Linked DNA regions of Homo sapiens. The protein of the gene in region 1 purifies or fractionates together with the protein of each later gene. This does not show direct contact. Each region holds a gene or a part of one and is shown on either strand. Other genes may lie near its edges. The genes, in order: RD3L and WRAP73.

What was found.
Region 2: the proteins of RD3L (region 1) and WRAP73 purify together in Homo sapiens (co-immunoprecipitation; one large-scale study listed by IntAct). This does not show direct contact.

What each region holds. Positions count from the first base shown.
Region 1 is NC_000014.9:103,939,864-103,944,042, forward strand, and holds RD3L (protein RD3-like), read right to left. Parts: upstream 2,667-4,179; 5' UTR 2,229-2,666; intron 1,840-2,228; 5' UTR 1,833-1,839; coding exon 1,534-1,832; intron 1,241-1,533; coding exon 943-1,240; 3' UTR 563-942; downstream 1-562.
Region 2 is NC_000001.11:3,633,017-3,636,836, forward strand, and holds part of WRAP73 (WD repeat-containing protein WRAP73), read right to left. Parts: intron 3,015-3,820; coding exon 2,928-3,014; intron 2,279-2,927; coding exon 2,144-2,278; intron 2,059-2,143; coding exon 1,981-2,058; intron 488-1,980; coding exon 382-487; intron 1-381.

The DNA.
Region 1 (4,179 bases):
AACCTCCTGAGTAGCTGGGACTACAGGTATGTGCCACCACACCCAGCTAGTTCCAATTTTGATACGTATATTTTTTTCTTTTTAGATGAAAGAAAACCAGTAAATCTTCAAATATAAAGTTATAATTAGGTTCCTTGGACTTAACTTTAAGAATGAATTGTATCACTTTATAAAAAAAATCTGACTAATGTATAATTTCCTACTTTTAATAAAGTTATGAAAAGCCAGATTTTGTATATTAAATATTTTGCTATTTCACCAGAGTATAAGTTTAAATTATTCACCAACAGTGAATGTTTTTCTTTGAGAGTAGCAGCTACTCATGTTGCTAAATCAGTCTATTTATCTTTACTGATAGAGCTGAGTTTTATTACACGTTCCCTTAATGTTGAGCTTAAAAGTACTGTGATTAAAACCAAAGCTGAGCGTTGGGTTAAAGCCCTGCTTCATTTTTAAACTGCATGATATTTTTTCCCTCACCGCCCTTCTCCCCATCCCCTGCTGAGAATGATCGTATAATGGGATGTTGACTTCTCATTTCTGTTATGTTGTAAAGATAGGATTCGTATTAATAATTTATTTAATTCTATATGTAGCTTCATTGTAGAATAAAAGTCAAGGTTAATATCTAAGTTTTGTACAGAATTTGTCAGACTTCATACTAAAGTTGCTTTAGTTCCTGTGAGGTGGGTTTGAGGTATAAGAAAATACTGCAAACATTTTTTCAAAATACTTAGGAAACATTTTAGTTAAAAGCATACTATTCAATGAAAACATAGCATGTTTAGAGTGGTTAAAAAAAGAACACTATTTAAAACATAGGCTACATCCACAGGATACTGACCTTGTAACAAAGAAAAACTTGAAGTCACATCACTTTTTCTTATTCTTAATATTAGGAGTTCTAAGGTGTTCATAAAAACCCCTCTAGTTGTAAGTAACTTAACTAGATGGGTGATAATATGGTAGGTTCCATATTCTGTGTGAGAACACTGGGAACCTGTCCTTTGTGTTTTTGTCTACGTAACTGGAAATGGTGGGTATTTCATCTTTGTCTGCCCTCTTGGAGCTGTCACCTTGGATCACAGAAGGAGCAGAGCAGTCCATGCTCCCTGAGTCCTCCAGGTCCTCTTGCTCACTCCCTCTGTCAGAGCTGCTTAGGAAGTCTTTCAGAACTTGCTTGAAGATGTAGACTATTTCCCATGGCAGTACATCATTTTCTGCCAAAACTTCTCGAAATCTAGAGGGGAAATGGTAATGAATATTCAGTTTAGAACATTTTTTGTTATATCTCTTTATCTCCAAAATACAGCTTGAATAATGTATACAAGTTACCCACCTTTTGAGTATTTTGCATGTTGTTTTAAAATTATGCTTCTAGTAAAGAAATTTTAAATGTAATTTAAAACAATTGCTCACCAGACATCTACACAGTTAAAGAATTTACATGATAGAATACAGTTTCTAGTCAAAATATATGAGGAACTTGGACTTAGCAGTAGCAGGAATCATAAGAGAACATAGTATTTTTACCTGCTGAGAATAGTTCCAGTTTGGCAAGGTTGAACTTGTGAGCAAAGAACTTCAAGTTGTCTTTGTTCAGTCACTGGGATAGTTGTGTGGGGATTCTGGTAGTTTCTGAGCCAGTTGTAATCCACACCTGTTTTTTTCACTTTTTGTTCATTTTCGATTTCTTGTATTAATCTCTCTCGCTCCTTTAGGTGCCATTTTAATTCCCGAAGCAGAGTCTTTGTCACTATGTCTGAGCCAGGATAGTGTGTGGGTTTGTAGGAATCGTTTTTGGGCCATTTCATCCAGCCAAAAAGTGGCATTTTTAGCCTATGGAAATATTTTCACTTGTTTATTTGCTCAAAATGTTATGTTCTTCTGAGCAAATATTTGTTTCTTTACAATAAATTTGCCCGAAAAGTGCACGATTTTTTTTCACATTTAGCTATGCAGGTCAAAATAAGATTAGAACATGGATTAACGTCTTAATTTTTAACTAGGTCAGTGGCAGAAACCAAGCTTTGAAAATGCTTTTATGTAGCTTAGCAGAAATTAGATATACAAAGTCAGAGATAACATATAGACTGAATGATATCCGAAAATAACACTAACACTTGCTGTGAAAAGTTCTTAAGAGACTTAAAATATTAATGTCGGGGCAAGTGCTGCCTACAGATACTTTTGATTTATGTTTTGGACAGAAAAGGTTTAAAGCTTACCTGTTAAGTTGATGGGCTGATGTGATGTTGCCAAAGAGTTGACTGAAGTTGGTGACGAAGCTGTGTTTCACTGGGACGTATCTTGCTCTCCTAGGTGTGTCCTCTGTAGAAGGAATGCGCCACCTTATTTACCCACCGAAACTGTATTTGAAATAAATAACTTTCTGTGTTAGGAATGAGGCTGTGATGTCTTCATTTGGAGAGAATGCTCATTAATTCACCTTGTAAGTAAGCTAGAAGAAATGACAAAAATAACTGACTATTTAATCTTCACAAGTTATATAATGGTCTGCCTTTTCAATGTAGCTCAGTCTATTTGAAAAAAATGCCAGCAGCTATAGATGCTGGTCCTAAATGCATTCCGACATGTCTTTGGTAGTGAAACGAAGAATGGTCGTCTAAAGCACCATAGATGCGCTCCGAGCTAGAGTGAAGACTGTCGCGTGATGTGATGCTTTGCTGTGCATAGCTGTAGGTCACAGTTTAGTGCTGTATTTTTATGCCTGTAGAGCTCTAAAAATAGCCACGTTGCTTTTATTCTTCAGCTTAACTTTCAGGCCATTTGGAAGCCGGGTCACTGTCCCCTCTAGTGAAAACAGGAAAAATAGATTAGACTTGACTATTTGCAAAACATACATTCTGAGAAAACTCATTGTAATTGAGTGAAATAGGTAAAGAATGCTGATGTGAATTATAATTGTGAAATATTTAGCAAATGTTACATTTTGTATTCATTTTGGTTTTTTCAAAATAGTTAAATTTGTATATTTAAGCAAGTTGAAATGCTAGGGGACATAATAAACAGCTAGATAACTTTAAAATATACTTTATAATCTCTGAAAATATGGTAATAAGGCAGTAATTGGTTGTCAGGGAAAAATAGAGGCATAAGAACATACAAAATTCTAAACAAAATCTTATAATTCATCGTAGAAAAATCATTTTCGTGTTTTTTTTTTGGAGCTGAGGATGAAAAACTTATATTTACTATTTAGGTGCATATTGGTTTGTAATGGTCATTATTGTGCTATTTCTTTTTTCTTTCTTTCTTTTTTTTGAGACAGAGTCACGTTGTGTCACCCAGGCTGTAGTGCAGTGGCATGATCACGGCTCACTGTAGCCTCGACCTCCTGGGCTCAAGTGATCCTCCCACCTCAGCCCCCTGAATAGCCAGGACCATAGGTGCATGCCACCACAGGTGCATGCTACGGCATGCCTGGCTAGTTTAAAAAAATATATACACACGCACATATGTACATACATATATGTTTTATATATGTACATATGTGTATGTATTTTATATATGTACATATATGTATATATACACATAAGTATATATACGCATATGTATATGTATTATATATGTATATATAAATATACACACATATATAATACACACATATATACACACACACATACATTTCTTTTTTTTTTTTTTTTGTAGAAATAAGGTCTCCCTGTGTTGCCCAGGCTGGTCCGTAAACTGGGCTCAAGTAATCCACCTGCCTCAGCCTCCCAAAGTGCTGGGATTACAGGCATGAGCCACTGCGCTGGCCTGTGCTAATTTCCTATGCAAGTGTTTGTCTTTTGCTAAAGAGTAGATAGTATAAAAGGTCTTTTACTCCCCAGTTCTCTGTGAAACGACTGCATAGTGGTTTTCCCTTTTATAGTATTTGTTTCTTCTGTTGCTTTTCCTTTCAAGTGAGCCATGAAGAGTAGACGTTGTTTACATCAGACTTGCATGTCATGCATGACCCAGAGTGACGTGTGTGGCCACCCTACAGCTCCTGTTGCTTAGATGTTAGAAAAAGCCAGATGTCAGGACTGATTATTGTCAACTGGAAGGTTTTCACATGACATTGCATATACTGTTAGGAGAAGGAAAGGAGTAAAGTTTATGATGACAGAAGTGTCCTACCAAATTTTATACTAAAATTACAGCGAATCTTGC
Region 2 (3,820 bases), on another chromosome or scaffold:
CAGAACCGGGCCTCAAGCCGGAGACAGCGCTCGGGAGCACCGCCGGGTTCCAGACCCACTCTGAGCGCCACCCACGGAAAAGTGTTTCTTTGAAAAACATCATTCTCGGAGCTCCGGAAAAACATCCCCTCGGAGCTCCCGCTGTCAGATCCGGGTCTCCAGGGCTCATATTCAGTAACAGAAGCCGCACCTTCACGGCCCACTGCGCAATTCAGACCCTAGTCAACCTCCAGCCAACAGGCTGAGGGGCACACTGGCTGGAAGCATGGAAGGGAAAAAAAGTTTTTTTTTTTAAACATAAGGAACATCCGAAGTTTATCTGGACAACGAGGAATCTTGCATTAAAAAAGGAAAACAAATGACATCACATGTGCTACTTACATTTACTCTCTGAGCTCGGGAGAGGGCCGGCCCCGGCCCGGGGCGGCGGGAAGGAGAGGCAGCCCAGTCCCAGCTGTGGGCTCTTCTCGGCCTCCTTATACACCACCTGAAAGACACAAGGTGGCCACGCCCGGCTCAGGACAGGGACCCGGAAGCCAAGGATGGACGTGGCAAATGCCCATGACAGCGCATGGTCAACAGGTGTGCCTGCCATGACAGCTGGTCCTGCTGCCACCGGGAGAGACGGAAGCACGAACCCCGCAGTCCCGAGAGCTGAGATCACCCAGCCACCCTCTCTCGTGTCCTGCTGAGGAGCCCACCCTTTGAGACACAGGCAGCAAATGTGTGCCCTGTGATTACAGACGGGAGACCACTGCAGCCACCATCATCCAGCAAGGGAGTGGGCTCAGCCTTCCCTCCGTGATAAGAGGATACAGAGAACACTTGCACCAACACAGCAGAGGCCCCGGGAGCAGCAGACACAGACCCGAGGTGGGGGCATCTGTGCCCGAGAGCCTGGCAAGCAAAGGACAGCGGCCCAGGCTCAGTGGAAGGCGGGCAGCCCCTACGCCCCTGAAGAGCCCCAGGTAAGGGAGTCACCTGGCCTGGTTCATGCCTTTAAAGCATGCTCTGCTGCTGTGTGGCGAAGGGATTTGGAGAATGCAGGAATCACAGGCAAACCTTCAGGACCTGTGTGGCCAGCCCTGCTCGGGCTCACCTGTCCAGACACCCTGGCCTCCAGCCACACAAGCCACTGGCCACGTCAGGAGGCCCCTCTGCCTGAAACACCCTTTCTGCCCAGACACCGCGCAGCTCCTCCTCCTGGTCTTCACTTAAACACCCCTCCAGGATGCATCCCCGGCAGTGGCTGATCTGGCATGCGCAGCCCCAGCCACTCACTGGCCTCTTCATCGAATCCAAGCCGCCTTTCACTCAGCTCTGTCGGTTACAGGTCAACACCAGGAGGGCAGCATTTGTCTCTGGCTCCCAGCGCAGTGCCCGCTGCACACATGGATGCGTGGCCCACTCCTCGGGGCCTTTGCATTTCCTGTTCCCTTGGCCTGGAACGCTCCCTCCCCGAGTCCCTGATCACTGGTGCAGCATCTGTGCCTGCGATCCCTCGCTGGTGGCCACTCCCTGCCACCCCGTGGAGACACCCAGCTCTCCAGCCCCTTCCCTGTCTCTCCAGCCGCACTCTGCAAGTGCAGGGGTCTGTCTCTTCTTCTCTGGCTGCGGCCCAGAGCACAGTGCCTGGCACGACAGCAGATGCCCAGTGTTTGGGGGCAGGAGACCCTGGCCACTCTGTACAGCACAGGGATCTGCATCCAGACAGACCACAAAGGAGAAAACTGGACTGGGGTGGCAGCGGCAGAGGACAGGCCAGGGCAAGGCCCACTTCAGACCCTTTGGGCAGCGTGGAGGAGGAAGAACAAAGGCCAGGGCAGGGCCAGACGCGTGAAATGTCACAGTAGCAAGTTTACGGTGATGGAAGTGCCCGGTTAAATAATAAACCACAATCAAGAAAGCAAAGTGAAGGAGCAGTTTCCCACCGCCCTCCCCAACAGCCTGCTCAGGCAGAAACACGTGTTCCAGACTTACTATCTTGGGATCATTAATGGCTGCAGGATGCCCAAACTCCGTGATCATTTTCCAAGTCACGTGATTAAGGATGCGCACCTGAGGAAGGAAACCATGCACAGGTGAGGCAGGGCCCGGCCCGCTGGGCGGTCGGACTTCCTGAGTGCCCTGCACTGGTTCCCACCTTTCCATCATAGCTCCCAACTGCCAGGAACTGACTGCTGGGGCTCCAGGCCACAGACTTGATGCCCAGGGACCACTCGTAAGCGCTGTACGTGGACAACAACCGGCCATCCAATGAGTACAGCAGAATCTTGTACTGCAGATGAGACATTTCAGTTAATAATGAATACACCCCCGTCGCCAGGAACACACCACAGACGCGGGTGCTGCAGAGTGACATTGGTGCAGATAGCACAAAGCTGGCAGGACTGTCCGCGTGGCCGTGGAAAAGCTGGAACTGCCAGCTAGTACTGAGATAGTCACGGAGAGGCAGTGAGAGCATGAGGAAAAAGGGGAAATTGGGAGGTCAACCTAATGGCTCGCTGATAAAAGTTCAACTCGGCCGGGCACTGTGGCTCACGCCTGTAATCCCAGCACTTTGGGAGGCCGAAGCTGGCAGATCACTTGAACACAGAAGTTCAAGAGCAGTCTGGGCAACACGGTGAAACCCCATCTCTACAAAGAATACAAAAATTAGCCGGGCGTGGTGGTGCATGCTTGTGGTCCCAGCTACTTGGGAGGCTGAGGTAGGAGGATCACTTGAGTCCAGGAGGTCGAGGCTGCAGTGGGCCGTGATCACACCACTGCACTCCAGCCTGGGTGACAGAGCAAGACCCTGTCTTTTAAAACAAAGCTCAACTTGTTATCTGAAATAAGATAAAGCAAACTATATTGCAGCATTCAGAAAGCATGAAATTCCGGGAAAAGCTCTCGAAAGCAAACATGTCACCTGGTCATCTTCATACCTCCAAGCAGGTGTCCCACACTGCCAGCACACAGCCGTTTGGGGCCCACTCAATCCCTGTGAGATCCTGGGTGTCCGTATCAAAATGCTTCCAAAGGAAGGGGGGGAAACATTAAATTTGGAAAATATTTTCGTAAATAAATAATTGCATTTATGACTGATGTTCTTAACGCACTTAATTTCCTTATATAGAAATTGACAAAATCTCAACAGCTCTATCCTGGAAATGCATGAAATCCCTGTAGAGCTGCTGCTGGGGCTGCACCGCCACAGATGCCAGCGTCAGTGCCTGGCCAGCCCCCAAGGGCGGCTTGGTCTCCCCGCGCCTGCACTCGTGTGCACACTCTCCCCCTCACCTTTCCTTGCCTGGCCAGCCCCCGAGGGCGGCTTGGTCTCCCCGCGCCTGCACTCGTGTGCACACTCTCCCCCTCACCTTTCCTTGCCTGGCCAGCCCCCGAAGGTGGCTTGGTCTCCCCGCACCTGCACTCATGTGCACACTCTCCCCCTCACCTTTCCTTGCCTGGCCAGGCTCACTCCTTTAGACCCAGCTCAGACAAGTCCCTTCCAGAGCACTGCCTGGATCCCGGGTTCTGCACTCTGACAGCATTCCAGAGGTTGCTCTACCTTAATGATGGATTGTGCTGGAATCGTGTTCATATGTCTGCTGTGGGGGCAGTGCCCTCTGTGCCTGGGCACCTGGCAGAGCGCCCTGCCTAATGCAGGCCCTCAGTCAAGGTGAACTTCCACGTCCCCCCAACTCCCGACGTGGCACACACATGCGCAAACACCATCACACAGGACAAGGAAAAGGGCTCAAATGTGACAGCATATTCACTTTTAAAACACCTGGGCACGCGTCCTTTTCACCAAGTCTCCTGAACACACAACCGGGTG